2 separate regions of the Homo sapiens genome follow, and region 2 is linked to region 1. The links come from fine-mapping of genetic effects on gene expression. A gene starts in region 1. The other region holds a variant in brackets. All regions are shown on one strand. Distances are from middle to middle.

What was found.
Region 2: its variant is fine-mapped to the expression of NAV1 in whole blood (TOPMed, PIP above 0.99).

What each region holds. Positions count from the first base shown.
Region 1 is chr1:201,528,675-201,543,973 of GRCh38, forward strand. NAV1 (neuron navigator 1) reads left to right here and starts at 10,453. Exons shown (of 34, transcript NM_001389617.1): 1 at 10,453-10,668. LOC124904484 (a long non-coding RNA gene) reads right to left here and starts at 11,471. Exons shown (of 2, transcript XR_007066793.1): 1 at 11,345-11,471. CSRP1-AS1 (CSRP1 antisense RNA 1) reads left to right here. Exons shown (of 2, transcript NR_160747.1): 2 at 4,750-6,110.
Region 2 is chr1:201,707,891-201,723,189 of GRCh38, forward strand. It overlaps NAV1 (neuron navigator 1), which reads left to right. Exons shown (of 34, transcript NM_001389617.1): 6 at 4,927-5,029; 7 at 10,500-10,865. All of the region lies in intron 2 of IPO9-AS1 (IPO9 antisense RNA 1), which reads right to left. It overlaps MIR5191 (microRNA 5191), which reads left to right and starts at 11,618; the gene lies at 11,618-11,737. It overlaps LOC124904483 (a long non-coding RNA gene), which reads right to left. Exons shown (of 2, transcript XR_007066790.1): 2 at 14,165-15,299. RefSeq lists enhancers at 5,039-5,727, 5,571-5,865, 11,734-12,380. The variant G/A (reference allele first, on the strand shown) is at 6,410.

The sequences.
Region 1 (15,299 bases):
CTGGGCCAAAAGATGCCCAGATATTTGGTAAAATATTATTCTGGATGTTTCTGTGAGGGTGTTTTTGGTTGAGATTAACATTTAAATCAGTAGAATGAGTAAAGCAAATTGCCCTCTCTAATATAGGTGGGCCTTATCCAATCAGTTGATGGCCTAAATAGAACGAGAAAGGCTGACTCTCCCCTAAGTAAAAGCGAATTCCTCTTGCCTAACTGCCTTCAAACTGGGACATTGGCTTTTTCCTGCCTTCAGACTTGAACTGAAACACTGGTTCTTCCTGGGTCTTGAACTTGCTGGCTTTTGGATGGGAACTACATCATCAGCCCTCCTGTTTCTAAGGCCTTCAGACTTTGGACTGGAACTAACATGCTATAGACTCTCCTAGGTCTCCAGCTTGCTGACTCACCCTGCAGATCTTGGGACTTGTCAGTTTCTACAATTGCATGAGCCAATTCCTTATAATAAATCTCTTTCTCTCTCCCTCTCTCTATTTCTCCCTCTCCCTCCCGCCTCTCTTTCCCCCTCCATCCCCTCCCTGTCTATCTATAGTGTACATTCTATTGATTCTGCTTTTCTGGAGAACCCTGACTAATGGAACAGATATGTTTGTTATATTATTCTGTATACCTTTTGCAGGCCTAAAATAGTTCATAATAAATTTTAAAATAAATAATGAATGAATAGACGTTAAAATGTCAGATGCTATAGAGGGCAAGTAAAATGAGAACTGGAATATGTACATTAGATTAGCTATTAAGAGGCCCATGATTGCCTTTGTAGGAGTGTTCAGAGTGGAGGCCTAATGGTGATGGGTTGTAGAGTGATAGGGGGTCTACACACAATTCATGGAGTTTAACAACAAAGTGAAAAAGAGCTCTGGGTCTAGAGTAGGGTGCAAAGGAGAGAAAGGGTTGTGTTGTTGTTGTTGTTGTTGTTGTTGTTGTTTGAGACAGGGTCTCACTCTGTTGCCCAGGCTGGAGTGCAGTGCAGTAGTGCAGTCTCGACTCACTGCAACCTCCGCCTCCTGGGCTCAGGTGATCCTCCCACCTCAGCCTCCCGGATAGCTGGAACCACAGACATGAACTAATTATTTTGTATTTCTTATAGAGATGGGGTTTTGTCACCTTGCCAAGGCTGGTCTCGAACTACTGGATGCAAGCAATCTGCCCGTCTTGGCTTCCCAAAGTGCTGGGATTACAGGGTCAAGCCACCATGCCCAGACAGAGAAAAGAGTTTTAATAATGGAAACACTTCTCTGTGCTGTGGGGCTTCCATACTAATTCTGTTGGAATTATCAGAGTCCTGGTCCTCCTTTGGTCGCTATGACTATTCCAGTAGAGATTCTGGAAGACTTGAACTTCGTCTCTGTGGGTACAAAGTGATTTTTTTTTTTTTTTATGTTTCACTCTTGTCACCTAGGCTGGAGTGAAGTGGCACGATCTCGGCTCACTGCAACCTCTGTCTCCCGGGTTCAAGCAATTCTCCTGCCTCAGCCTCCCAGGTAACTGGGATTACAAGCACCCACCACCACACCCGACTAATTTTTGTACTTTTAGTAGAGCCGGGATTTCGCCATGTTGGCCAGGCTGGTCTCGAACTCCTGACCTCAGATGATCCACCCACCTAGGCCTCCCAAAGTGCTGGGATTACAGTCGTGAGCCACCACACCTGGTCTTAGTAAAGATTTTTCAAAGAGCACAGTGCTACTGTCTCTCATGGAAAGAAAAGTATTAAACCCATGATGATTACATCTTAGTCTAAGGGGAATATTAAACCCACAATAAATTAAGCTAAAACTTCACAAAGACTCTGCAAGGCGTTGGGGCAGGACAGGGGGTGGGTAAGGAAGGGGTTGATTGTAACTGGAAAATCTTGGGCTACTTGTGGATGGTGTTTTTTTTCTTTTCTTTTCTTTTCTTTTTCTTTCTTTCTTACTTTTTTTTTTCCTCCTAAAGGTTGAGCTTGGCTAAAGGAGTGTTGCTAATGGTTTCCCAATTTAGTTTCAAGGGGATTGGCAGCAGGGTTTTCCAGGCCACAAAGGCTGAAGGGGGACATACTATTAGTCTGTCTCACTCCTCCCAGAAACTCAGTCTGGGTTTACTGTAATTTCATCTTAGTCTCGTCAAAGGCACTCCAGATGAGGAGATTCTGAGCTGGGGTATTTCTTCCTACCCCTCCCAGACAGATTGCAAGGTTTTTCCAATACTGCATTCTCCCTGGGGCTCTCCCTGGTTGGCGTGGAGAGAAAAGCGCCAGCAGGGGTCAGCAGTGTCCCACATCTGGCCGGGAGCTGCTTGCCACATGTGCTGTTTCTTCTGGCACGGCACTGTCAGAGATACTGGGGAAATTGGCGAGCACCGTTCCATTGAGGCGTTAGCATCATTATGAGCATCGCAGGCTCAAGATTCCTCTCCCTGAAAGTGGGGTGGGCTGGATGAGTGGAGGGTGTGTTCTTTATAAGCACTATGTGGGGTGTGGGTGTAGAATCCAGACATCAGCAATGCCAACTCACCATCTGGTTTTCTATCGGGAGGTTTTTATGTGTATTGGCGTGAGCAATATATTGTGTCGGTCTGGGTGTCAGAGGACGCGTGTCAGAGTTGCCTTGTTGAAATTTTCCCAGGGACCTGGGATTTCTGGATTCACCCGGTATCCAGGCTCTCCCAGAGCGGCACTTTAGCTGGCCAAGGCCTGGAGCAGAGTGTGTGCAGCGCTCCCACGGCCGCCTGCCCGGGCCTGCCCCCGACACATGCTTAGTGGAATTCTCCCGTGGCAGCCCAGAGTCTCCGGAACGAAGGTCTCCACAGCCAAAGCCACGCAAGAGGCTCTCCTGCTCTCATTTCCAGACGCACCCTCATCCTTGGCCTCTCCCTGCCTCAGTTCTCTTTGACTCCTCCGGTCCTTGTTGCTGCTCAGCTCCAGGGCACCCCCACCTCCCAGGACAAGTCCCCTGACTTTACAGCTTACAGGCCCAGAATAACAGATGGCCAGAGGCATCCCATTCAAGACTCCCCGCCTCCTTCCTAGCTCCTCAGTCTCTCCCACCCCAATGTGGTGGTGCCCAGGGAGGGGGTCAGGAAACCACAGAGGGCCTGTGGGAGGCGTACAGCTGGGGACAAGCGTGGGCTGGAAGAGGAGCCCAGTCTGTAGCTGAGACTCCCAGGGCCTCATGACCTTCCAGGCAGCCTCCACCGCTGCTATGACAGGCAGATGCCCGACTTTCCACCTGCTTTCTGACCTGGCTTTGGCAAGGCCTGAGCACCTGGCCTGCTTTCCCAGGAGTACAGTTACAGCAGCTGATCTAGGGAACAGGTGTGGGCTCCGTGTCACAGCTGCTGCTGAGCACATCTGTACCCACAGTGAGGAGGCTGCAGCTGCAGCAGGGCCTGTCAGTCACTCATACTCTCCCCGGAGTTGGGCTGGGGGCACTGAAAGGGCCAGGGGTGGAGAGAATCTGAGATAAGCATTCACAGAGCACCTTGCTCCTAGAGATCCCAAAGTGTGACCCCTGACAAGGTTTTCCCACAGTCAGCCTCACTGGCACCAGCAGCGTGGGAATTAGGGCTGGATTCTCCCCTTCTGCCTTGCTTCCCAGCCCTTGGGCCACAGTCAGCTCCTCCTCCTTCCTGGCTAGCTCAGCTCAGCTTTTGCAGGATGGAACTCTGAATCCTGGCTTCCAGTGGCTCTCCCAGAAAACTAGGAGGGAAGTGCTTGGAAGAATGGCTCTTTATTCATGCAAATGATTTCTTGCCATTTAAGAGCCTCAAACCACAAAATCAATTAAAGAGAAAAGGGGAAGATTTGGGGGTCTGTGCCAGCCACTGGATGCAATGCTTTACCTCCATCATCTTATCAAATCTTCCCAGCAACCCTACTGCATAGCTATTATCAAGATCATTTCTGTTTCCCAGAGGAGAATTCAAGGTTACACAGTTAGGATGCAGTGAATCTGGGATTTGATTGCCGTCCTGACTCCAAAGCTTGCACTCTGACCACTGGGCCACACTGCCTCAAATCTCCCATTCTCTGTTAAATCCAACATCTGAGCCCCATTCTTTCTCCCTTGCAGGGAATCACCTGCCTACCTCCACCTCATCCATTTCTCACCACAGCTGGATTCACCTCTACAGCCTTTACCTCCAGTCGTATTTGGCAATTCATCCTTTTCCAGCTCCTATCATCCTCCCCTACCCTCACCAAAGTGGACATCGCAGCCTCTAAATCTGAACGGAGCTGACACCTAGCACCCACCCTCTCACCAGCTACCTCTGGGTTCCCCCACCCGGTATTCCCTTCCTCACATCCAAGCCTGTTCCCCTCAGGCCCTGTCATGGCCTGAAATAGTCTTTGCCCCTGTCTACCACTCTCCAGGGTCCCTCTTGACACCTACTTCTGCTTTCCCCTCTCAAGACACCTTTTCTTGGCATTTTAAGACTATTTACTGACTATTTATTGATATAGGAAAATGCTTACAGAATGTATTAGGAGTATCTTACACTTTTTTAATAATTATGTATGTAATACATGAATAGATTCTCCTTGTAAAAAACAAACTCAAACACACAGAAAAAGTTAATGACTCCCTTGATGACTGCCAGTTTGAAGTGTTTTTCCAGACCTTAAAAAAATATACTTTCATACAAGCATATGTACATATAGAAAGATATACTTTAATGGGGCATCTTTCATCATAAATTGGATCATAATGTGCAAATTGTTTCACAACTTTTATTCTCTGTTTGTTTTCAGACAGGGTCTCACTTTGTTGCCCAGGCTGGAGTGCAATGGCACAATCATGGCTCACTGCGCCCTCCACCTCCCAGGCTCAAGCCATCCTCCTATCTCAGCCTCCTGAGTAGTTGAGACAACAGGCATGTGCCACCATGTCTGGCTAATATTTTAATAAAATTTTTTGTAGAGACAGGTTCTCCATATGTTGCCCAGGCTTTGATTCTTCTAATGCTCGGTATTAAGACTCTATGACTGTGTATTATACATAGAGTTTACATGTGAGTAAGTTCTGGGTGGAGAGACACTATTCCTTGCTAGGGCCTTAAGAGTCTGGCTGCAGCTCTGCTATCACATGGGCAAAACCAGCTACATAATTTACAAGATCCAGTGCAAAATAAAAATGTGACATTTCTTGTTAAAAATCATTGTGAATTTCAAGATGGCAACAACAAAGCATTAAACCAAGCAGGGGGCCTTTCTAAGCTTGAGCCCCCGTGTGACTGCACAGGTCATATGCCCATGAAGCTGGCTCTGCAGAGACTAGCTGACCGTTGGACTGGCTGTGTCCTGGATTCTTTTAGTTAATGCATTCCGTGTTCTGACAATGGACATTCCTGTCTCAGCCTCCACATTGGATCTGGTCCCCTGATTCTGCACCCAACATTCCTCAGCCACATTCCCTGCTCCAAAGCCAGAGCTCTATGTATTCCAGCACAAGCAAAGTCCCAGGGTCCATGCCTGCCAGTCAGCATTGCTCTGGAGGCACCCACAAAGATGGCAAAGATGGGGGGTGAAGGGGGTATTGGACAATGATATTCCTGTGCCTCGAGTGGAAAGTCTCTCAGGAGATAAGAGAGGACTGAAGTACCAACCAAGAAACCCGGGTTTCATTCCCAGCTCTGCCACTAAATTTACTGTGTCCTTAATTGGCAAGTTGCTTAACATCTTGGCACTGTTATCTCTTTATCTGTTAAAGGAGAGAGTTTGATTAGATTGTCTTTAAGACCATTCCCACTTCCAGCTCTAAAAGTCTGTATTTAAGTGACTCTAAGAGACTGTAATAATAATAGATAACATTTGTTGACCATTACCTTATGCCATTTACATGTTGATTTAATGCTCATAACAACCGTATGAGGCAGGCACTGTTATTCCCATTTTACAGTTGAGAAAATTGAGACTCAGTTTAAAACATGCATGGGGAACAAGGTAGCTTTTTGGGGTGGTGGAAATGTTCTAAAACTTGGTTCTGGTCATGGCTGCAGAACTCTGTAGATTTAGAGTTGTATATTTCGAGTGGGTGAATTTTATAATATGTAAATTGTACCTCAATAAAGCTGTTGAAAAGAAATAAAGAAATGTGCTGAACTAGTACATGATCAAGCTCTCCACACTGCTATGGAGACTATCAAGACTCCTTTCCTCTGCATATATGTAGTATTTGAAAACATGGACTCAGGAGCCAGACTCCTTCAGTTCAAATCCTACCTCTATCACTTACTAGCTGAGACCCAGACAAGACACTTGACCTCAATTTCTTTACCTGTAAAGTGGAGATAAAAAGTGGTACAGATTTCATAGGGTTGTTGTGGAGATTAAATGGGTTAATATATGTTAAATGCTTAGCATAGCAGTTGGCACACAGCAAATGCTATATAAGTAGGGACTATTATTATCTTCCATACCACAGGATTGCCACAGCCAGAACCAGGCTTCTTAAAGGGGCAGGTTTTCTCCCTGCAAACCCAACCCCTATTCTCCTGGGCCCCTTAAAGAAACACCTCCTCTTCAAAGGCCATCTTTGGAAAAACACCACGATGGCTTTCAGTACATCTCACTTCCTGGTAACAGAGAGAGAGTGAGAAACAGCATCTTCCCGATAAGGCAGTGACTCGCTCACTCTCGTAAAACATTCATTACTCTGACAGCTTTTCCCCATGGACTCTTTCTCCCAGGTCCCTGTAAGCTCCAACAGTCAACACAGAGGGCCCTTCTTAAAGGGGGCCCAGGGCCAGTCATGAGGCCCGAGTGGCCAAGGATGGAGATGCCTGTTTTGCCCATGTCCAACCCCATTCCACTAGCCTAGGAAACCCCTCACTGGTTAATGAATCAAGCTAGAAAGGACAAGGATTTTTAGTGGCCAGTCAGATTTCTATCACTGAAAAATGGGTTTTCAAGCACTGAGCCCATAACCACAGTGAATTTGACTGGGGTGGGGAGGTGGGGCGGGGTTGGGAATATGAGCTGATGCTTTCTGTTTGATAATCCCACTTCTGCTTATATGTGAGCAGCACTGCAGAAACCATTTTCTCCTCCATGATCTCACTGAATACTCACCATGCCCTTGGTAGGTGGGTATTCTTGTCCTCTGGGTGTCAACACTCCCTTTTACTGATGAGCAAACTGAGGTGATGCACTTCAGCCAGCATCAGAACCAAGGCATGGAGTCAGGTCTTCTGAAGCTGGGCCCAGTGTTTTTCCACTGTGCTTCAGAGGAGGAAGTCAGAAGCTGCCTCGGACTCCTCCTTAGAAGCTCCAGTGACGCTTATTAAGTGCTCAAGAAAATAAAGCAATGTGCTATCTTCATATTCCTGCCAAGGACCTTACAAACTGCTCTGGGAGCCCCAAACAAGACAGTCCGAAGGATAAAGACAGTCTCCCTGTGGGCCACGTGGAACGCAGGAGCTGTGAGTGTGTTCAAATCCTCAAAGTCCCATGTCAGATAACCCAAGAAACAAATTAGCATTGGTCCACAGACCTCAAGGCGGCAGGAAAACAGGCAAAGCCCCCAAAGAAATCAGGCTGGGGCTGAAAATGTCACTTGCCATACTTCCTGGGGTTCCCAAAACTCTCATCTCGTCGGAGGCCGGATCTGATACTCTATGGGAGTGACAGCAAGCTTCTGGGCTGATTTTTTAAAACTTATTTGTCAGGTTGACATTAATCCTTTCGCTACCCATCTTGTCCCAAAGCAGGATTGGCTCTAAGCTGTGGAGGAGGGGAACAGAGGGGCTGTTGGGTTTTAAGGAGCCTCAGTGAGGCCAGCAGGTCCTGGAGGCCACCTTCTCGGTGGGGAGTGGGGGTACAGGTGACTATGCCAAGGGTCTCCTGCAGTGAACCTGAATCTCCCTCCTTCCATCACTCACAAATCATTTCACGCCCCAGCACCTCTCCCACTCTCTCCATCCTCCCCTCCCCACAGCGAGGTCCTTGCCTTTACCTCTTATTGATTTTCATATTTAAGGAAAATCCATTTGCTAGACTCAGAGCAACTGAGTCATCACTGTGTTCAGACAAAAACTACTCACAAAGTAGGCATTTGGCAGAGGCCACTTCTGGGATGGGCGGGACCCTGTTTCTTACCCAAACAGTGCTCTGTCCAGAGTCTCTTCTGGCTTCTCCTCCCTGCCGCTCTGTCCTATCCACTTTCTCTTTCAGTAGCTTTCATATCCTCTGCCTGTCACCCCAACCAGACTGGCCCCTTTACTCCTTCCTCCCTCAACCTGTCCATATGCTATTATGTTTGCCTACACATACAGGTTCACTGTTGGAAATCTGTGAGTGGGACATTTTTCTGAATTTTTATTTTAGATTCAGGGGGTACATATGCAGGCTTGTTACCTGGGTATATTGTGTGATGCTGAGGCTTGGGGTACAAATGATCCCGTCACCCATATTGATTGGGACATTAGGAGCAGGGTGAGGGAGAACTTGTATGAGCAGCCACTCATAAGTGGGAGAGAAATATTGATCCTGTGTACTGATAGAAGAGATCTAACCCTTACGAAATTATAGCTTTGGCTTTCTTTTCCATTCTGGGTAGCACCCAAGGAATGACATCATCCCAGCATTACCAATGTGGATGGGGGCTATGCATCCAGCCTCACAATGGGTCAAGGAGTCATTTCACCTTCTGATAGTCATTTGCATACCTACTGTGTGGTCCTTGGTCCCTGGGGTCCCACCTTTTGAGCTCTCAAGAAAGGACAGTGCTTCTTCTTAAAGGACTAGGCTCCCCTTTGCAGGACTGGGAAGAGCACAAAAGGATTCTAGCTAGCACATCATTGAATGCCAAACTGGGCGCAGAGTTACATCTCCAAGAGTTAGATCTCCAAGAGTTAGATCTCCAAGAGTTAGTTACTCCAAGATCAAAGTAACAGCTAATGTTCACTGAGCATTTACTATGTGCCAAGCACTATTCTAAGTGTGTCACCTATAGTATCGCATTTAATCCTCCCAACACTCTTAGGAGATAGGAACCATTATTATCCCATTTTACAGATAAAGAAACTGAGGTAGCTAGAGGTTAAAGAGTTCAGTAAGTTCCCATGGCTAAAAAATCATTGATCCAGGATTTGAACTCATGCAGTCTGCCTTAAGAGCCCACACTTCTAGTCTTTATACAGAGGGTAAGGGTGTCACTCTGCAGTCCACCCCCTTATCCCGCGCCAAAAGGCAGTTCACTCCCTTCATGGACAAAAATCATACAACAAATCTTTTTCCCTGATCAGTTGGGAACTTCTTGAATGTCACTGCTTGTCCATTGTCTGGTGTCTCATCTCTCCAAATTCAAAGCCACTGTGGCCTTACTGACTGTGTGGGGCGTTCAGGGAGGACTCAAGGGCTCTCATCCTGACTCTGCTCACACTGATTTTGCTGGCAAAGAGCTGTGAGACCTCCCAGGGAGTAGGCAGTTTTGCTTTCTATCCATCAGTCCTCCAACTTGCAACCCCATGGCCCTGGGAATAGATCAGTCCTCTTATTTGTTGGCAGGAGCAGGGGAATCTGCTGGGTCCTTGGCCACAGCTACTCCCTTTCCAAAGCCTGCTTCAAAGCTCAGGTCATCTGGCTTCCTTCTGCCTTCTTCCTGCAGACCCTGGAAGTCCCCAAGCCAGGAGGCAGGGGGCTTGCACTGCTTCTGCAGTAGGTTCTGGCTGAGGGCCTTCCTCCCATTCACTCTCCTCAGGTCCTGTCATTTCCTCTCTCCTCTTCTTCCCCCTCCTCCCACTCCCAAGTCCCTGGAAGAAGGAGGAGGGGCATCGGCTGTCTGGAAGGTGGGGAGAAGTCACTTATTTTACTGAGCACCTACTATTTGCGGGGCACTTGCGGGGCCTCCCCCTCCTCTAAGACAGCTCAGACAGCATGACAGTTCAGTGGGGTGGAGAAAGAAAGGAGGTGGGTGCCCGGGGTCAGAAGTCGGGTGGAGAGGCTGGCCCATCCATCTGTCCCCTTCTCCTAAAGAACTGCGGCTGAACCAGCGAGCGGTACCCGGACGACATGTGGGGGAGGGAGGAAACCCGGCCTGGAAGTGGCGGTGGCGGGTCCCCGGGCAAAGGAAAGGCTCAATTGTGCAAAGGCTTCCTGCCCTGCCAGCTCGCGGGTCCGCCACCGAGCAGCCGCCTTTCTGCGGCCAGCCTGGGAGGCGGGACGGGAAGGCGAAGGCAGCAAAGGGTTACGGGAATAGCTTTCCAATGACAAAGTCTGGAAGGGACCCATGCCTCCGCCCCTCTGCGGGTTAAACTGGCACAGTGCAGGGGGAGGAAAGCCAGGGCGATCGGACGGATTCTCTCCTCCTGCCCGCCCCCCGGCCGCCAGGCACTCCCCTCCTGGGCCCGCCGTGGAGGCAGCCGGCGTGTGCCTGGGGCAGCGGGTCACGAGGCTCCGCCCCGGCCGCCGTTCCCGAGGGGACGGCACTTTGTTCAGGATGCCGCCTCCCTCCTCATTGTGGGGCCGGGGCCGGCGGCTGCCCTAGTGCGGGGCCCGAGGCTGGAGTGCGCGGCGGACGCCAAGCCTGGTGCGAGGGGCCGAGGCGGCCTGGGGAGCCCCGGGAAACTTTGTGCTCGCGAGAAGCGGACCCCGCACCCGCGCTGCCCTTGGGGATGCGCGACTCTGCGCGGCTGCGGCGCGGACCCGGAGCCCGGGCGGGCAGGCGCTCCGGTGAGTGGCCGGCGCGGGGCGGTCGCGCGGTCGCGGCGCTGAGGGTCTGGCGCTTCCCGTTTTGCGAGGCTTGGCTGGCAGGTCCTGCGAGGCCGAGACCAAGTCTCGGGGTAGGGGAGGTTGGTGCCCGAGGGAGGCTGTGGGCTGGGCTCGGGAGAGGCGCTGGAATAAATAACAACCAAGATGCTCGCGGCTTCCCGGGAAGGTGTGTGCCCTTTCGACCCCTATGGGACTGACTGCGCGTTTGATTCTAGAGTTGACTCTCCGGGGGGGCTGCCTAACTTCAGTCCCTCTGAGCCTCAGTTTCCTTGTTGTGAAATACCCACAATTTAAAGTGCGTTGAGATCTTATCATGAGACACCAGGTGCTGCGTTCTTATACTCGCACCCACACGGCAAGCACACACCCTACCCGCACCTCTGCCTTTCGTTGAAGCAAGAGTTAACTCCTCCCATCCCAGCAGGAGCCAGAGGAACAGCTGGGGCAGGTGACCTCGCGGGCCGTTCCAGAAAACGTTCCCCGCACCCCCGGGATGCGCCGGGAAGCGCCCTCCCGCCAATCTCCCGGAGGCCGTCCTCTCTGGCGCCCGCCCAGTGCGTCTGGGAGCGGAGAAAGTGGTCCCGGAGGAGAGGGGAGAGAGGAGAACGCAGAAATTGGGTGATCACGGGGAGCTCACCTGAGCGCTCCCGAGGCTTGGGCTCTGGTCCCTGCTAATCCCCAGAGCCGATAAAAACTGGTCATAGGATAAAGAAGCAGCTAAGTTTGCAGCGGGCAGAGGGGAGGCAGGAACTGGAGAGGACGCGAGTGGCGGGTGGCGGGGGCGGTGTGTAGGGGTGACGTCCACCCGGCAGAGAGGGTTCCTTGTCCCCTGGAGCCGAACACAGGAAAATCAGCTGGTGAGTCAATGGGACTTTGTTAGGATAGTCACAGGGCGCAGCTGGCGCCGGCTTAAGGGAAGAGCTGGATCCCCCCTTGATAACATGCTGTTTATCTGGCTTCCTGTTTCAATGATTGGGATACCATTGGCTCGTTCAAATTCAATGCTGAGAAGCCTGTGGGCACGTTCGTTCACTGTGCAAAAGCAGAGGGCTTGCCTGGGTTTTCATCTGTGGGCTAGCTCTTGTTCCCCCTACATGAAGTCCCCGGCAACTCACTTGTAATGGGACTGGAGACTTCGCAAAAAGAATGGCCTCCCCAGGAGGAGGATCTGACGATCTGACACTGCAGAGACCTTGGCTTCCTTTAGGCCAGAGATATATATGATTCCAGCTTGCTTATGACATTTTTTTAAATCCTGCTTTGACTTTTTGTTGGTGTGTCTTTGGGATTGACCTAAGAAGGGAGACAGAGGGAACAGCTCTATGGATTTTGTCTTCTAAGATGAGCTTCCTAGTAGTATGTGCTTTCACCATCAGTTTTTAGGGGAAGTTTTCAATCATCAGTTTGTAGTTCTCTATCTGGCTGTGTTGCTAACCACCTGGATGATCAGAGAGCAAATAATTCCTCATGTCTCTGTCCTGGTTTTCACTTCTGTAAAGTGGAGCCAGGAAAAAATCGCTACGGTTGGAAGAATAAAGAAGGTTTTTCAGATTTGGGCTCCAGCCCCTAGGGTCTATTTCCTGAACTTTCCAGGTGAAAGAGAACACCAGGTGAAAGAGAACACCATTTCCGGGTGAAAGAGAACAGCCCCTGATCTGAACTTCTTCAGCAGTTTATCTGATTTCCCTTGGGGCAGGTCTCACATTCTGCTTTGCATTTTTTGTTTTTGTTGATTGTCAGTGTGCCATGCTTTGTATTTTAGATATTTGGGTGTTTGTGCACATGCCTATCTTCCTGTGAGTACCTTCCAGCCAAACACCCTATCTGACCACCCACAACACTCAGCACACAGTAGGCACTTTATAGATGCTTGCCAAACTAATAGAATTGGGGAGAAAAACTAAGTAGCATTCAAAGGCCTCCTATCTCATTTAAGTGCCATTTATTCATTCTTTGGGAGTTAATTTGCTCCCCCAGACCCCCTCTACTTCTTTTTCCCTCAAAAGCAGTTCATAAAAATGTTGATTTGCCCATGGGTAAGTAGGCAAGCTTTGAATATTTGGGCTTTTTCTGGGATCTGGCTTCTTTGATAAACCTTGGCCTGGGGAAACTGAAAACAAGAATGCTGTTTTGGCCAGGTGCGGTGGCTCATGCCCGTAAGAGGGGCGGATCACCTGAGGTCAGGAGTTCGAGACCAGCCTGGACAACGTGGTGAAACCCTGTCTCAACTAGAAATATGAAAATTAGCCGGGTGTGGTGGCAGGTGCCTGTAATCCCAGCTACTCGTGAGGCTGAGACAGGAGAATTGCTTGAACCCGGGAGGCAGAGGTTGCAGTAAGCCGAGATCATGCCATTGCACTCCAGCCTGGGGGCCAAGAGTGAAACTCCATCTTTTTTTTAAAGGAGTGCTGTTTTTCCTTTCTTGCCTAATCTAGCCCCCTCCTGAGTCCCTGTGAACCTCTGGTATCAACTCAGTTTGGGCCCAGTAGAAAGGAGTGGCCTAGAATAGAAAAATCTCCTATCCATCTTTTACAATTTGTCTCTATTTTTGCCTTCCTATTTCCAATCAGTGTCACTTCCCTCTTCTTTTAAAGTTCTTTTGACTTCTTGAAGGGTTTGGCCTTTAAGAAAAACCAGAATGTCAAAGTTAAAAGGATCTCCACTCCTCCCAACCCCTGCTCTTCTCCCCTTTACAGGCAAGAATCAAGGCCCACTGAAGGGAAGGGATGGGCTCAGAGCTACACAACTGGGGTACTGCAGAAGCCCGCCTAGAATGCAGGGCTCCTGGCTTTCAGTTTAGGGCTCATTCCCTTTCAGCAAATCACTGGGAATTTTTATCTTCCTAGCGTTTCCATCTCAGCAGATGTTACTTACCTCTTAGCTAGAGAGAGGAACAGAAACATATTAGGGTCAAGACAGCTATCTCTGTGATGGAAGCATCTATCAACTTTTCGAGTCTCTGGAACATGGAGAGCTAAGAAATGTGGCAATACTTGGCAAACACTTCGTCTTTCTGGCCCCTAGTCACACACAAAAAATAATAATTAAAAACACTTTTAGTTCCTTCTTCAACTTAAAAATACCCCTCCAACTAGTCTAGCGAAAAACACCCTCCACAGTAAACCGTTTCCTGGGCCTCATCTGTTCCCTTAACCTCCTGGGAAGGCTGACTCAGGCCTGATTTCCTCCGAGAGGCCTGCGATTTTGCTTCCCAGCATCCTGTGACTCTTGAGACGTGAAGCGAGGCAGGATGGCTGAGACCCAGGCCACTCTGACCTGCCTGTGGATGTGGTTCAGGTTCTTACACATGTCCTGTGCAGTTCACACTACCACCCCATCAAATCTATTTGCTCTACTTAATTTTAATATGAGATGCACTAATATGCATATAAAATTAAAGGCTCTGATGCATGTGCCTCTGCCAAGGACCGTTACTAACAAGATGATTCCACTTCAAAAGACTGCAAGACTGTTCTGATATCCAATCCTCAGATGCTCTGAAAGCTTTCATAAATGGAATTGTTTCTTAATTTCCTTTTTGGCTTGTGTATTACTGGTGTGTAGAAACACAGCTGATTTTTGTGTGTTGATCTTGTCCCTTGCAATTTTGCTGAATTTATTAGCTCTAGTAGCTTTTTTGTTTCTGGATTCTTTGGGATTTTCTATACATAGGATCATGTCAACTGTGAATAGAAATAGTTTTACGTCTTTCTTTCCAATTTGAATGATTTTTATTTATTTTTCTTGCCTAATTGCTCTGGCTAGAACTTTCAGTATAATGTTGAGTGGCAGTGGTGAAAGCAGACATCCTTCTCTTGTTCTTGATCTTAGGGGGATTTCTTGATTTTAGCCTTTCACCAGTGAGCGTGATGTTAGCTGTGGGCTTTTCATAAATGTCCTTTGTGTTGAGGAAATCATCTTCTATTTCTAGTTTTCTAATCATTTTTTTTTAATCACAAAGGGGTGTTGAATTTTATGTCAAATGCTTGTTTTCTGTATCACTCGAGATAATCCTGTGGCTTGTTTTTTGTTTCCTTCATTGTGTTAGTGTGGTGCCTTACACTGATTGTTTTTCTTAAGTTGAATCACTCTTTTAGTCCTGGGATAAATCCCTCTGAATTTTTTTTTTTTTATCTGCAAAGTTTCATTTTTTTTTCCCCTGTAAAAAGACAACAAAATTTGACTAAGTGCTAACATTTTACATTAGGATGGGTTGATGTATTTAATTATACTTTTCATTATAATTAGTGTACTTTAAACATCTAACAATTATATTGTGGTAAATATGTATAACCTACAATTTACCATTTTAGCCACTTCTAAATGTACAGTTCAGTGGCATTAAATGCATTTGCATTGTTGTATAACCATCACCTGTAGCCATCTCTGGAACTTTTTTACCTTCCCAAACTTAAACTCTGTACTCATTAAAGAGTAACTCTCCATTCCCCTTCCCTCCTCCCCAAGGCCCCGGCAACCGCCATTTTACTTCCCATCTCTATGAATTTGTGAACATTTTTTAATAACTAGAAGTTAGGCATTAAAGGGTTAAAGGGCTGTATCTTCCTGTCTTCCAGTTTCCCACCAACTCC
Region 2 (15,299 bases), 180 kb after region 1:
ATGTGCATGTATTTTGAAACACCATATTGTAGTGGAAAGAACAAGGGCTTTGGAGTCAAAAAGACTTGTGATCAGTCCCCTGGCTCAAATTAAATAACATGGAAAATGCCTCGTGGTGAACATTGAGTAGCTGGGCATTATTTGATTTGTGTGTGCATGCACCTGTCTGTCAAGTGTATTTGATTGCTAGTCCTTTCCCAAAGACCCTTGACATGGACAGTATGCTCTCTCTGTGGTCTTGCATAAGAGCCAACAGTGTGTAGAAAGAAACACCATCCTACTCTGCAGATGCCCCAGTGCATGCTGGGACTATGCTGCTGTTTGTGGTAACTGTGAATTGCCGTGGTGATGGCTGGGTTGGGAGAGACTTGCATCTGTTCTGAGCCTGAGTAGCACACACATTCTCTCCCCAGTTGCTCCATTTTCAGGGAAAGGCTTGGAGGGCAGCCCAGGATAACATCATGAGCTCCTCCCCATAGACCTTGGTGTCGCCCTGGGGCCTGCTAGGAGCCCTACCTGCCCCCTTCCCCCCTCAAACCCTACTTGCGCGCACACACACACACACACACACACATACACACACTTCACTCTTGCAGCTGGACCCTGTTCTGTAGGAGCTAAGACAGCACGCACTCCCAGGCCCCCAGAGTAAGTTTTGGAGGGTGGCATCCTGGCTGGTATCATGTGAAGGAGAACGCTGTACTCTACTAGGACCTGGCTAGAGGTGGGTTGGACTGGAGAGTACCTTGTTCTAATTTGCACAAAGGTGCCACGTAAGATGGGAGTATTCTGAGCACGTCCTCCACTTAGGGGTATTGAGGAAGGGGATGGGCTACCAAGACTCCCTCTGCATCTTTGCCATGTCTGGGCTCTGTTTTGTCCCCAGGCCTGTCCCACACCCAGAGCAAAACATTTGACAGAGACACATGGAGGCAGCCTCCAGGGCATCTCAACTTAGCCAATAAAACAAGCCATTAGCCAGGCACGATGGCACACACCTGTAATCCCAGCACTTTGGGGGGCTGAGTCAGAAGGATAGCTTGAGCTCAGAAGTTCGAGACCAGCTTGGGCAACATGGCAAAACCCCGTCTCTACTAAAAATGCAAAAATTAGCCAGGCGTGATGGGGCATGCCTGTAGTCCCAGCTACTCAGGAGGCTAAGGTGGGAGAATCGCTCAAAACCAGGGAAGTTGAGCCTGCAGTGAGGCGTGATCATGCCACTCCATCCCAGGAGACAGAGTAAGACCCTGTCTCCAAAAAAAAAAAAAAAACCATTGAACTTTTAGGTTACTTTTCTCATTATCACAGAGTAGCGGAAGCCCTAGATACCTTCACCCCATCCGGGATGCTCACCCTCACAGGAGATGGTGAGAAAGGGGTGAAGCTTAGTTATGGGTTGGTGGTCAGAGGTGGGGTAAGGTGAAGATCAGGAATGGATGAGGGTTGAGAGGTGAAGTAAATTCCCTTGGAAATGTAACTTACTCATATTTTTAAGCTAAAATATAAAAATTCACCTTCAGGGTCATGGGTGTGAATGTCAGATTGGCTCCTCAACCTAGGCCCCCTCTGCAGCCTCTGGAGCTCTGGAGGCCTTTCTTTTGTACACAGGTAAGTCCTCTTGGCCTGAAGCTGTGGCTGTACCACCCCGGGAATGTGTCTGTCACCTAGCAATGTGGAGGAAGCCAGACTTACCAGGGGCCCCAACCCTCCAGACCCACCCTGGGCTGAGCCTTGGAGAAGCAGAGCGGCATACCCATGATGGCCACCAGGGGCCACTGCTGGGGCACAGAGGGAGCTGCAGGGTGTAGCCTCTGCAGGGCCCCTCCAGCCTGGTAGCAGAGACCAGATCCTGGTCACCCCCAAGGAAACCAAACCCTGCCCTAACCTCCTCCCCTGTATGCCCCAAATCTATACCTGTGGGGAAGCTGCCTGGAGTCAAGTGTTCTTCCATTCGCATCTCTGTGATCTCCAGCTAGTCCCTACTTCCTGGACCTCAGCCTCCCAGCTCTCCAGAGACACAGCAGGATTAAGTGACTTTCAAGGACTCTTGTGGTTTGGCGACTCTGGGAGACTCTGAAATAGTCCCACCACACTCTGCTGATGTGGAATTGAGGAAGGGGCTAGGATAGAGGTCTTTGAGGGAAGAGATATGGAGAAAGAGGGTCAAACCTGTGACCTAGATGTCTATGACTCCCATCTGGAGCATCTGGGGCATTAGGGAATGCAGCATGACTCTCCTGAGGCTACTGTGTGGTTTAAACATTTTTCCTTAAAAAAAAAAAAAAAAGACATTTTCCTAACGTGACATGTATGTATCCCTTTACTTTTTTTCATGGGTTTTTGGAAATTTTAAAAAATTGTGGTAGCATCCATTCTTGAAATGTTCACTAAGCATCTTCTTTGTTTTTTTTTTTGAAACAGGGTCTCACTCTGTTGCCCAGGCTAGAGTATAGTGGTGTGATCATAGTTCATTACAGCATTGAACTCTTGGGCTCAAGTGATCTTCCTGCCTCAGCCTCCCAAGTAGCTAGTATTACAGGCTTGAGCCACCTGGCCAATTTTTTTATTTTTATTTTTTATATAGACAGGATCTCCCTGTGTTGCCCAGGCTGGTCTCAAACTCCTGGCCTGAAGCGATCCTCTGGCCTCGGTCTCCCACAGTGCTGGGATTATAGGCATGAGCCACTGCTTGCAGCCTAAGCGCCTCCTATACAACAGTCACCATGCTTGATGCTAGTGGTGCAGAGATGCCCTGTGATATATCAAGACAAGTATGAGTTTCTTCCTGGGCTCAACTCTGCCTTGTGCTACATGCTAGGTGTGTGACCTTGGGCAGTTTACTTGTTCTCTCTGAGTGTCAGTTTTCTCATCTGTTAAATGGGGCAGTAGCACAAATCTCCCAGAAATGTTGCAAGGATTCAAGTAGATAATGCATGCAAAGGGTCTGGCACACACAGAAGTCTCTGAGTAACTCTTGATCACCTTCCTCTTTGGGAATACACACCCCTTGGAGATGTGTGTGCCTGTCCCTCATGTCTGCCAAGCCCATAAAAAGCATCACCCTGGGCCAGAAACCCACACCTTGGCACCATGTTCTTAGTCCCCACATAGGCATTTTAGAATTCAACTTTATTTCTTGGCGAGTCTAAAAAATTGACCCTGTCTGTGTTTCATGCCAAGCCATCAATTAAAGCCATGGAGCAGCTTACAAGGTGACACTTGCCAGGATAAATAGGCATTGGCGGCCACGGAAGTGATGCCAGGACTGGGGATAGAGCTTAGGCCACTGGCATGGTGGCCTGCCATTTGTCCCTGATCCTTGCCACCAGCATGGAGGCCTGGATTCATGGTGCTGACCATGAGAGGATGTGGGGGTGGAGAAGCTCCCCCTGGGAGGGGAAAGGAGGGATGGCTGGGCTTGGGTGTGGAGCTGGTTCTCAGAAAAGGTGCCCAAAAGGCTCTGGAGAGGGCATTGCAGGCTCCCTGCCCGCCCCACCCAGCCTCCCCTCCCTGACAAGACAGTCAAGCAGCTGCCTGCCAGCCGGCCTGAGCTTAGTCTTGGGGGAATAAAAACCTCTTGAAGAGATTCAGAAATGTTCCCTTTGGCAGCTAAAAAAAACCTTACACTCCTGCTGAGTCTGTGGGCTGAGGAGGGACTGAGGGGGCGTTTGGCCTCTGCAGCAGCGGCAGAAGGCTTGCGGATGGAGGGGAAAAGGGAGCAGCCTGGAGAGCCAGAGTTCTTGGGTTTTCTCTGTTGTTTTGCCATCATCTTTCTGTCACTCCCTGACTCTCTCCTGCAGATTGTCTTTTAGGGAGGTACTGGGGGACTTGGTTCCATTCATGACTTTAGGTTCCAAAATGAAAGATAAGCCATGGGGCAGGGCCAGCTTCTCTTCATTATACTGTCCTTAGGGCCCAGGGTGGTGCCTGATGTGAAGTAAGTGCTTGATAAAGATTCATTGGATGAACTGAAGGAAGGAAGAACATTCTTTGAGTTCCTTCATGCTCAAGCACCTCTCAGTCATTTGGACGTTATTTTCACCCTGTTTGCTGTTGTAGATTCTCATCCGTCCAGGCTAATATCTGGACACCAGGGTTGAATACAATGGCTCTTGGTGATTTGGGATTCTGAGGATTGGGCCACACCCATGCATCCTTCTCACTCAGGATTGCACCACTTGTGTGGGGACTGCCCAGAGCTCACTTCAAGCTCCAGAAAATGACTGCTCATCCCTTCCACCTCCCACCAGCCACCTCACCTTTAGGAGACTATATCTGAACTAACTTCCTGGGACCCCATAGAGCAACCCCAGATATTACCAGTCAGTGCCTGGGTTTAGGTGTACTGAAGCCAGCTTGTACCAGTTCCCCAGAGCCAATTGTTAGCCCCTCTTCCTAACTCTGTGGTCAGTGACATCAGATTGGTAGATTGAAAGTGGCCATGATAGGAGGCTTTATACCAGGGAAATTGGCAAACACCACACATCGGTGTCCCCTTCCTCCGAAAGCCAGTTGTTAAACATTTACCAGCACAACCCTGGATAGGGGGTTTCAGGCAGATGTTCCAGCTCATCTCAACCACGAGAAATCTTGCCCAGGACCTCTGCTATGAGAAGCAGGGCCTCCCCAAAACAAAGCCAGAGGTAGAGGCAGTTCCTTGGGGGCTCTGAAAGGAGTGCACAGACACAGAAAGCCATGCCTGTACCCCCTGCCAGGATCTGGGGTTCAGAGGGCTCAATGGCACATGTCCAGGGCCTTTGAGAGGGCCCATTCTGTTGGTTGTCTTTGGGAAAGGGAGGAGGAAGGTGACTATCATGGCCCAGGGACTAGCCTCCTGGGGACACTGTCAATCTCCACTTCCTGACCCCCAGGATCCCAGCATTAAGTTCTCTTCACTCACCCAGCTCTTCCTTCTCTCCCTACCAGACCCAGAGTCCCAGAGAAAGAGGACAGTGCAGAATGTCCTGGATCTCCGGCAGAACCTGGAAGAGACCATGTCCAGCCTGCGAGGGTCCCAGGTGACTCACAGGTAAGCTCGAGCTGCAGAGAGGGTCATGCCCTCTGCCTTCCTGGCTCTCCACCCCATTCTGGAGGGCAGGGCCCCCGGGTCCCTCCACACCTCTGCCAGGTCAGCCAGGTGGCCTGATGCGTGGAGCCACTGCAGAAGGAGGAGGAAATCCATTTATCTCAACAAGAGAAGCTTGGCTTTGTCTTCTGTCTGCTTGTGCCTGAACATTTCATTTCATTTCAGCAAATCAGCTTGAAAATCACTAGCTTAGGAGCCAGGAAGTGGAAGCCATTACACAGCTCAATGTGTGATCTTTGATAGTCAGTCTCCTTCATTAGACCTCTGTCTCCTCAATCTGTCAAGAGAAGGTTTACTAAATGCTCTCTTCCTGTTCCTAAGTCTCCATTAAACTAGGGGTCTAGAATCAATTCCCTTCTCAACACCTGGGTCTTTTCACTCTTGTGTCAGTTAGGTGCCCCCTGGCCTCTTCTACGAGCCACTGAGGGAGGCTTGAGTGCTCAACAGGGCCCACACAGTGTCACCCAGCTCCATGCCCTGTTAGGTGTGTCCCCCTAGCCCACTCCCTGCAGAGACCTCATAGCCTCCAGCTGCATGGGGCACTCAGCCTTCCCACGGCACCTCTCTCTGGAGCAAAGTCCTGGCCACAGGCTCTGCTGTGACTCAGAATTTCCCTTGCTGGCTCCTTGGACTGCCCAGATGAGCTCATGCTGTCAGCTCCAAGTGGGGCAGAGGGCTGGGCTAAGCTCTGGGGACAGCGGGAGGCAGAACAGACAGCCAGATTGGGAAATCATGGGGGGTGTGGGGCAGGAAGGCTGTGTGAGGGCTAGGAAGCCTCCCCAGTTAGACTGGAAGTAGATTCCTCTCCAACTCCTGGGGCTGGAAAATTAAGAGCAAAGTTGGGACACAGGGGCAGTGGAAAAGGACTTTCTTTAGCCCAGGGTGTGGCCATTTGGGATTCTGAGGATGGGACCACACCCATGGACATATTTACATACCACCAATGACAAAGAACTCATTACCTTTCTTTTTTTATTTTTAACATAGGCTTTTTAAAAATATTTTGTTATTATTTTTAAAGACCGAGTCTCATTCTGTCGCCCACTGCCTCAGCCTCCCGAGTAGCTGGGATTACAGCTGTGTGCCATCACGCCCAGCTAATTTTTGTATTTTTAGTAGAGATGGGGTTTCACCATGTTGGCCAGGCCAGTCTCAAACTCCTGGCCTCAAGTGATCCACACGCCTTGGCCTCCCAAAGTGCTGGGATTACAGGCGTGAGCCACCGCGCCCGGCCAACTCACTACCTTTCAGTCACCCCGGTGCATTGTGGGATTGCAGCAACTCTGATGTGGAACTGCACTTAGTCTTAAGTAGCTTTCAGCC[G/A]TTGGCTGTAGTTCTTCCTGCTTAGATGACCCTTCTCCTTCTCCTTCCTTGTACTACTCCTCCCCCTATCCCCAGCCCATGCCCGCATCTTGGACACTCAGCCCTTTACTCCCAGACATCTCGAGTATTTTAAATGGTAAGATAAATCAAAACTCTCTGGGGATTACCTCTGCTCAGGCCAGCAGAACCCTGACTACTGAAAGGGAGGTGACCAAGGAAGTCCTGGAAAAAGGTGGATGGTGGGGGCTCCAGGACCCCCTTACATCTGTCCCTTACTGCCATCCCTCATAGCCCCAAGCCCCCAGCAGGAGCCCAAGTGAAGCAGGGATCTGGCAGAGCTTGGCTTATCAGTTTAGGACCCAGCGGATGAAATCTTGGACATCTGCCTTCCCCCATCCAAGGAAATTGTTGGAACATCTCTCAGCACCAAGTCACCCACCAGCCTCATGCCAAAGACACCAGAAAGTGCTTAGTTGCTGAGAGGGCCACACCCCAAATGACTCACTCACAGGAGTAGGAGAGAAGTAGCAGCTCCAGCCTCCTGGTGCCACTGACTCAGAGCAGCCAGCCCCCAGTCCCTCCGTTAAGCCGGACAGCTTGACCCTAGGCAGGCGCTATTGGTTTTCTGCTTCTAGTGGGAAAGGGGAGGCTTCAATCAAGCCTTTTGCATAATGCTGACTGGTTTAGGGGGAGCGTCTAGGGCCTCTGGCTTCTGCCTCCCTTTATAGGAAAGGAACCAAGAGCCCCGGAGCTGGTTTTTCTGTTTACTGTGGACCTAGAGCCACTTCCTCTCATAGGCTTTGGTTTATATTATTCCTGTTCCACACTGGTAGCCAAAACAATGATTCCCTGACTTTTTATGGCTCTTTTTTTTTTTTTTTTGAGACAGAGTCTCACTGTCTCCCAGGCTGGAGTGCCTTGGCATGATCTCAGCTCACTGCAACCTCTGTCTCCCAGGTCAAGCGATTCTTCTGCCTCAGCCTCTGAAGTAGCTGGGACTACAGGTGCGTGCCACCACACCGGCTAATTTTTGTATTTTTAGTAGAGATGGGGTTTCACCATGTTGGCCAGGCTGGTCTAGAACTCCTGACCTCAGGTAATCCACCCACTTCGGCCACCCAAAGTGCTGGGATTACAGGTGTGAGCCACCACGCCCTGCCGGCTCTTTTACTTTTTAAAGGGCTTTCTATCAATGAGCCCTTCCCTTAGCCCTGGAAGTAGACAGGATATATACATACTCCCTGGGTTAGAGAATGAGGCTGGGGGCAGGGAGGCACCTGCCAGAGTCACGCTGGCTGATGAGGGTAGGTTCTGTACTCTGCATGCTCAGAACCCATGCCAGCTGTGTGCCAGGCACAGCGCTGGGCACTGGCTCCCCAGAACACACACAAGCTTCATCCTCGGAGCTTATGGTCCAGTGTGTGCTTCCTGCAAGGCTGTTTTCACCCAGGAACTCCCAGGATAACTGGATTCCATTCCTTTTCAGAAGCCTTTACTCCTGTGCTGCTTCCTCAATTTCTACTGGTTCATTTCCCCCAGCGAGGAGAGTCTGGGTCAGACTGTGGCTGGAGAGGAAATGAAACTGTGTCCTCCCCAGAGAAAGGCAAGCCTGAAGGGTGGGTGCAGGGCTGGAATTCAAGAACTGAGGATCTGAGCTAGAATCCCCCTCACCAAGCTTAAGTCTAGAGATGTCTAGAGATGTGTTTGGGGGAACTGAAAAAAAAAGAGAGAGCTGTGGAATAGGGGAAGAGGCAATTTTAGTACAAATAACTAAACAGGGGCAGGCCAGGAATAGAATTGAGGAACCCAGATGCTGAGTGCAGCCCTCACTCCCACACTAGTATATAACCATGGTGTAGGCTAACTACCCAAACCAGCTTCCCTGGAGATCCCCGCCACCCTCTTAGTATGGTTAGCATCATCCTCTTCCTCCCCTGTCTCATCCCATGGTCAAGGTCAGCTTGCTTTTATCAAGCACTTACTGCACAGGGCGCTGGACTGAGTTTTCTGATGAGAACTTCCTTGCTTTTTACTCACACATCCATCGTGGGTTTGCTCCTCTTTGATTCATTCTAGAGCACCAGCTCTAGGCCAGGTGCCATGCAAAGTGCTGAAATACCGTGGTGAGTGAGCAAGGCAGACAAAGTCGCACCATCACTACAGTCTCTGGCTTCGGGGCACATCGGTTTCTGTCCAAGGAGATGTGATGTCTAGGTCCACAGTAATTAGAAGCCGAAACAAGACACTGTATGAGGCAGAGCTGCAGAACACAAAGGGGTTCCTAAAGGGCTGCCAGAAGCAGGGTGCAGTGGCTCACGCCAGTAACCCCAGCACTGTGGGAGGCCGAGGTGGGAGGATTGCTTGAGTTCAGGAGTTCAAGACCAGCCTGGACAACATGGCAAAACCCCATCTCTATAAAAAATACAAAAATTAGCCAGATGTGCTCATGTGTGCCTGTCGTCCCTGCTACTTTGGGGCTGAGGCAGGAGGGTCACTTGAGCTCGGGAGGTCAAGGCTGCAGTGAGCCGTGTTTGCACCACTACACTCCAGCCTAGGCAACAGAGTGAGACCCTGTCTCAAAAATAAGTAAATAAGTAAAAAGAGTTGGCAGGGCCAGGAGGGGAGCCGCTGGGCATGGACACGGTCAGGAAGCCCTCCAGAGGGCCAGAAGCAGCTGCCACTGATTGCCCTGACTGGCCAGGGCCTCCCCCATCTTGCCCACAGGACTACTGCCAGGACCCCAGCACACTCAGTTTCAAGAGCGTTTGGATCCCTCAAGTTCTGCTGGTTAGAAAATAAGACCGTATTTTCTCAGGTCCAATAGAGACAACTTTGGAAATTTTTCTTCTTTTCAAGGAACTTGATAGAAACCAGAATGGAAAAATCAATGTCCCACTCCCATTCCAGCCCCCAAAGTGGCTAAGCAATGGATGTGTTCACAGAGCAGTGATTGCTTGGGCTCATGTAACTCATGTCCAGCCACAGATTGCCTCAGTTGCCCCAGCTTTCTTGGCCACCAAACCCCGTTTCGCTTACTTAGTCCTGTCTGGCTTAATTAGGATAAGTTATGGAGACCCTGCCTGAGGCTGATTTGGGCTGGCCCCACTGCTAGGCTAGATGGAATTATGGGTCTCAGCCTGAACCCAAGTCCAAGCCACCCCTTCAACCAGATTCCAGTTGTATTTCCTCTCTGCAGCCCGCCTGGCCCTATCTCCTTCCCTAGTCCCCCAGGTTCCCCTAGTCTCAGGCCATCCAGCACTCACCTGGGCATTGCTCCCTTGGCCTGGTCTAGCAGGGCCTGAGGCTTGAGACTCTGGACATTTGGCTTCACCCCCATGTCTGGTTCCCTGTGTCCTCTCCTTTGTCCAGTTAAGGCTGCTTCTATTCTCTGGGGAGGCTTATTTCCCCTGCTGCCCTAGGCCTGTGGCTTGGACCAGTCTTACTGGGGACCTGCCATACATCCCAGATTCCCAAAGCTTTTCCTATACTCTCTGCACTCTACTTCAGCTTTCCTATATATGATGTTTGGGAATCAGCTAGCCCTCAGCTAATTACTAGAAGAGAGGTGATGGACACACCATTAACAAAATGACCAAGGCCTTCTAAGCTCAAGTGACCAGTCTCTCCCACTTGCCTCCAGGTCTGTTGACCCCTTCCATATACCAGGCACTGTGTTCTGTCTGTACATATGTGATCCTTACAACTCTATAAGGTAGATGTTATGCCATTATCCCCATTGTACAGATGGGGAAACTGAAGCTTTAGTTATTTACTTTCCTTGGGCTCCTTTACTAACCAATACCAAAAAAGAATTCAAACCTAGGTCATATTACACAATCTAGGGTCTTAACAGTATACAGGATTTCTTCCCTAGCCACTTAATTAAGATCATTTCCTTTGTCAAACAGATAACGTATCACAAAGGTAACACACAACCAGAGGCCTCATGGAGGAGGTGGAGCTTGGGCAGGTGGGGAGGAGGTGACAGGGCCTGTGGGTGGAGGGGAGGCATTGCTGGGGTGCATGTGAGGGGACAGGGCACACGGCGGCTGTGCCAAGGACTAAGTAGTGCCTTCTGCTCTCCACCCAGCTCCCTGGAGATGACCTGCTACGACAGCGATGATGCCAACCCACGCAGCGTGTCCAGCCTCTCCAACCGCTCGTCCCCTCTGTCATGGCGCTATGGCCAGTCCAGTCCGCGGCTGCAGGCTGGTGACGCGCCCTCTGTGGGTGGGAGCTGCCGCTCGGAGGGGACGCCCGCCTGGTACATGCACGGCGAACGGGCCCACTACTCCCACACCATGCCCATGCGCAGCCCCAGCAAGCTCAGCCATATCTCCCGCCTGGAGCTGGTCGAATCCCTGGACTCGGATGAGGTGGACCTCAAGTCCGGCTACATGAGCGACAGTGACCTCATGGGCAAGACCATGACGGAGGATGATGACATCACTACCGGGTAAGCGCAGGGGCTTCTTGGATGGCGGGGGAGGATGGTGGAAAGACCACTGGGATGCGACGCCTTAAAAGTGGAGTGGAACCCAAAACGGGTTTTGGTTTGCTGTGCTGCTATGAAAGTACACAAAAGTGTGCTGTGTACACTTTGTGATTGCCTCTGAAATTCGATGTGGTTTATTCTAGACTTGGGTGTGGTGTAGGCAGGGCCTACATCCAAGGAGCTGATTGGTCAATGAAGGCGCCTCCCTCTCATTGGTCTCTGTGGCTGTCATTCTGTCACCCTCCTCCCTGGCTCTTTGCCCTCAATAAACTGGCTCAAAGAGCCTTGGAAAAGCATTTTATTCCCAGCTCTTATGCGAACTCTGTGTAGACCCTGGACAACTAAATCTGCTTTCCCATTTGCAAAAAAAAAAAAAACCAAAAAGGTTATTAACATCGTATCTGTCTACCTAAGAAGAGAAAATGAGAGCTTGTGGGTGAAATCGCTAGTCAAACAGTGAGTAGCAGCAGTAGCTCCACTTCCTTTGCCAGGGGTTCGTAACCCCTCAGTTCCCTATCCGACCCCTGTGGTCCTCAGTGTCTGCTCCTTGGGTTTCTTCCTGTGCAAACCTTCTACCAATCATGCAACTTCCTAATCCCTACCCAGCGTGTCAAATCCTTCTTTCCTGCCTTTTGCCCTGCAGGGACCCTCATCTTCTTATATTTTTCTGCCTTAATTGACAGAGTTGTGCCTATGCCTTCCAACCTTGGAAGAGTTGGCCAGGACCCCAAGCCCCCAGCACTTCATTCTTGCTGTCCTCTCCTGGTCTGGGAGGATAGAAGAGAGGATAGGAAGAATGAAGTGCTGGGCGCTTAGGGGGATCCTGGCCAACTCTTCCAAGCCCAGAGACAGGAGAGAGGCAGTGGTTCTGGAAGCTTCTCTGGAGCACCTCTTAGCCTACTGCCACTTTCACTCTCCCTTCTTGGTTTGCTGGTGCCCTCCTCCGCCAAGGGGCCATACAAGTAGCAGCAGCATCCCTTCCCTTCCTTCTCAGGGACTTAATATCTTACTGCCAGGGCCTGCCTCTCCCCAATAAAAATCCCAGACTTCAAGGGAGTGGAAAGTAGCCTCTCCTCGGAAAAGACGAGAGCCAAGCTCCAGGCCATCCACTGTTCCCCACCCCCATCTCCACCCCTGCAGAGAACTTGGAGGGATCTGGTTAGGGCTTGTCCAGCTGATGAGGCTGCTCTGGAGCAAAACAACTGACGCATGAATGGAGTTGTTTACTGCCTGTTAAATCCCAGGGGCCAGCCCAACCTCGCGCTCACGCTCAGATCCACCAGCCTGGAGCTGGGACCAGAGAAAAGCCATGCAGTGCACAGATCCTGAGCTCCTTCTGTGGTCAGAGGCCTGTGCTGGGCAGGAAGGAGAGCCAAGGTGTGTGAGGAGCTGCTCCACACAGCCTCTGCCCTAGGAAGCTGCCAGGGACTGCCTGAGGAAGTGTCAGGTCACTGCCCTCCTCTGAGAATCCCAGGAGGGTGCAGAGGGTGGCACAAGCCCTGCGGGGCTGAGTCTTTAGAAAGTCCCCCATGTGTTAGAAGAACCATAGCCCTAGACCCTAGGGAGCTTCCAGACAGGGGAAGTGATAGGACCCCTGCCCAGCACAGCTCCCAGATTGATGGAGGTGACGGGGCCCCTGCCCAGCACAGCTCCCAAACTGATGGAAACGAGATCCCTCTGAGAGCCCTTCACCCCACCAACCCACCTGATGGCCATGGCAGAAAATACCCCAAGTGTTGCAAGGTACAGGAGCCCTGCTTGGAGACGTCGCAGTCTGAGGAAGGTGGCAGGACTTCCGGCTCTTAACTAGCTGTATGAGCTTGAGCAAACTGGTTCACCTCCCCAGGCTTTCTTTCATTTGTCTATCTGTCAAATGCAGATAACAGTAGAACTTATCTCAGGGTTCTGATGAGGATTCAATGGGTTAATATATGTAAAGTACTTAGAATAATTCCTGGCTCATTGTAAATGCTCACTAAATGATAGCTATTATTTTTGTTGCTATATTATTTTTGTTGTTATTAGAGTCCCAGACTGATGGAGAGACATGATTCTTACCGTCAGGGGTGTGTAGTCTGACCAGAGTCCCACTTACTCAGCATCAGCAGCAAAGACAGATCTAGTAGCAGCTGGTCAATCCCAGGGGCATAGATAATAGGCTGTGGGGGCATGGAATGCAGGGGGAAAGGGTAGGAAAGACCCCCTTTATCCCCCCTCTAACACCCTTGCTTTATCCTCCTTCCTCTGGACAGGATGTGTGTTCCCGAATCCATTTTTTAAAAATTAGAGTTCACCGAGACTAGCATGAATAAGAACTTGCCTTCCCTGCACAGCCCCCAGCTGTAAGCCTTGGGAAGCCTGGAGTTTGCATGGGGAACACAGAATCAATTGTTGGCATGGCAATATCCATAAAGTGGACCTTCCTGTAAACTGTGATGCTAGTTTACAAGATCATTTCACATGCATTTTTTATGGTCAACCTTCAGTTAGCAGTAACCCTTAACACGAGTTTGTTAACTTCCCTGCTGGGACTGTAAACATGGCCATCTGAGAAGTCAGAGTTGAAGGGAATCAACTTATAATCCCCAGTAATTTAATGTAAACAGTCACTCCTCGATTATGGGTTTTCATGGTTAAGTGTTGTTGTTGTTTTAATTAGTAACAGGGCAACCTGGATTCCAGCGACTCTTTAAGTGAACATGCAAACCTGAGCTGTCGTTGCTCAGCCTCCTGTTGGTCTTCTCATCCCCACTGTGGTTTCCATCTAGATGTTATAATTTAGAAAATGTCCTATTTCTTAAAAAACTGTTTTTCTAGTCATTAAAGGGGTAGGACTGTTCCCTGTAGGGATAGCTTCAGCGCTTCCCTCCACACTGCGACACCCCTGCCCACCCATCAGCCTCGGCCCACTGCAATTTACTTTCCCACCTCCCAAGAGCTCCCAGCACTGGGCCAGCAGAAAAGCTGATCTTTCCCCACTGGGTGACATAATCGGCTCCAAGCTATCCGAGTGAGCCATAAAAGATGACAGTAATTCTGGCGCTTTCTCCACACTCTGTTTATCTGCGGGGGGATCATCCCTTTGACGGCTCTTCCCAAGCCCCTGTTCAGTCTCAAGTCAGCTCTCCCTACTCCCTCCAGTGACCAGGCCCCTTTCAGGTCATTAGTCAGCAAACCAAAGAAGGCAAATTCTTCAAACTGAAGTCAGCAAACTAGAAGGAAGAAAGTGACTCTGATGCTGCTACCAGAATAATCATACATGTTTTTTAAAAAGGATTTATTTTTAAAAATTGTGGTTATATATATATAACATAAAATTTACCATTTTATGTTAACCATTTTAAAGTGTACAGTTTAGTGGCATTCAGTACATTCACACTGCTGTGTAACCATCATCACGTCCATCTCCAGAATTCTGTCTTCTCCCCAAAGAGAAACTGTACCCATTAAACAGTAGCTACCCTTTCCTCCTCCCTTCAGCTCCTGGGAGCCACCATTCTACTTTTCGTCTCTATGAATTTGACTACTCTAGGTAACCCATATAAGTGGAATCATACAGTCTTTGTTGTTGTTGTTGTTTAATGACTGGCTTATTTACTTAGCATAATGTCATCAGGGAGCATTTATGTTGTAGCGTTAGAATTTCATTCTTTTTTCAGGTTGAACTCTATTCTGTTGTAGGTATACGCCACATTTTGTTTACCCATTCATCTGTTCATGGGTTGTTACCACCTTTTGGCTATTGTGAAGAATGTTGCTCTGAAAATTAGTGTCCAAATATTATTCAAGTCCCTGCTTTCGGTTCTTTTTGGGTATATACCTGGAAATGGAATTGCTGTATCATATGGTAATTCTATGTGTTTTTTGTTTGTTTGTTTGTTTGTTTGTTTTGAGGAACCACCATACCGTTTTCCACAATGGCTGCACCATTTGATATTTCTACCAGCAATGAATGAGGGTTCTAATTTCTCCGAATTCTCCCCAACATTTACTATTTTCTGTTTTGTTTGTATTTATAGTAGCCATCCTGGCCAGGCGCGGTGGCTCACACCTGTAATCCCAGCACTTTGGGAGGCTGGGTTGGGTAGATCACTTGAGGTCAGGAGTTGGAGACCAGTCCGGCCAACTGGTGTGGGGTGAAACCCCATCTCTACCAAAACTACAAAAACTAGCTGGCGTGGTGGTGCGTGCCTGTAATACCAGCTATTCGGGAGGCTGACACAGGAGAATTGCTTTAACCCAGGAGGCGGAGGTTGCAGAGAGTCGAGATTGCACCACTGCACTCCAGCCTGGGCGACAGAGCGAGACTCCAACTCAAAAAAAGAAAAAACCCATCCTGATGGAGGCGAAGTGGTTATCTCATTGTGGTTTTGATTTCTGTAGTGATTAGTAATA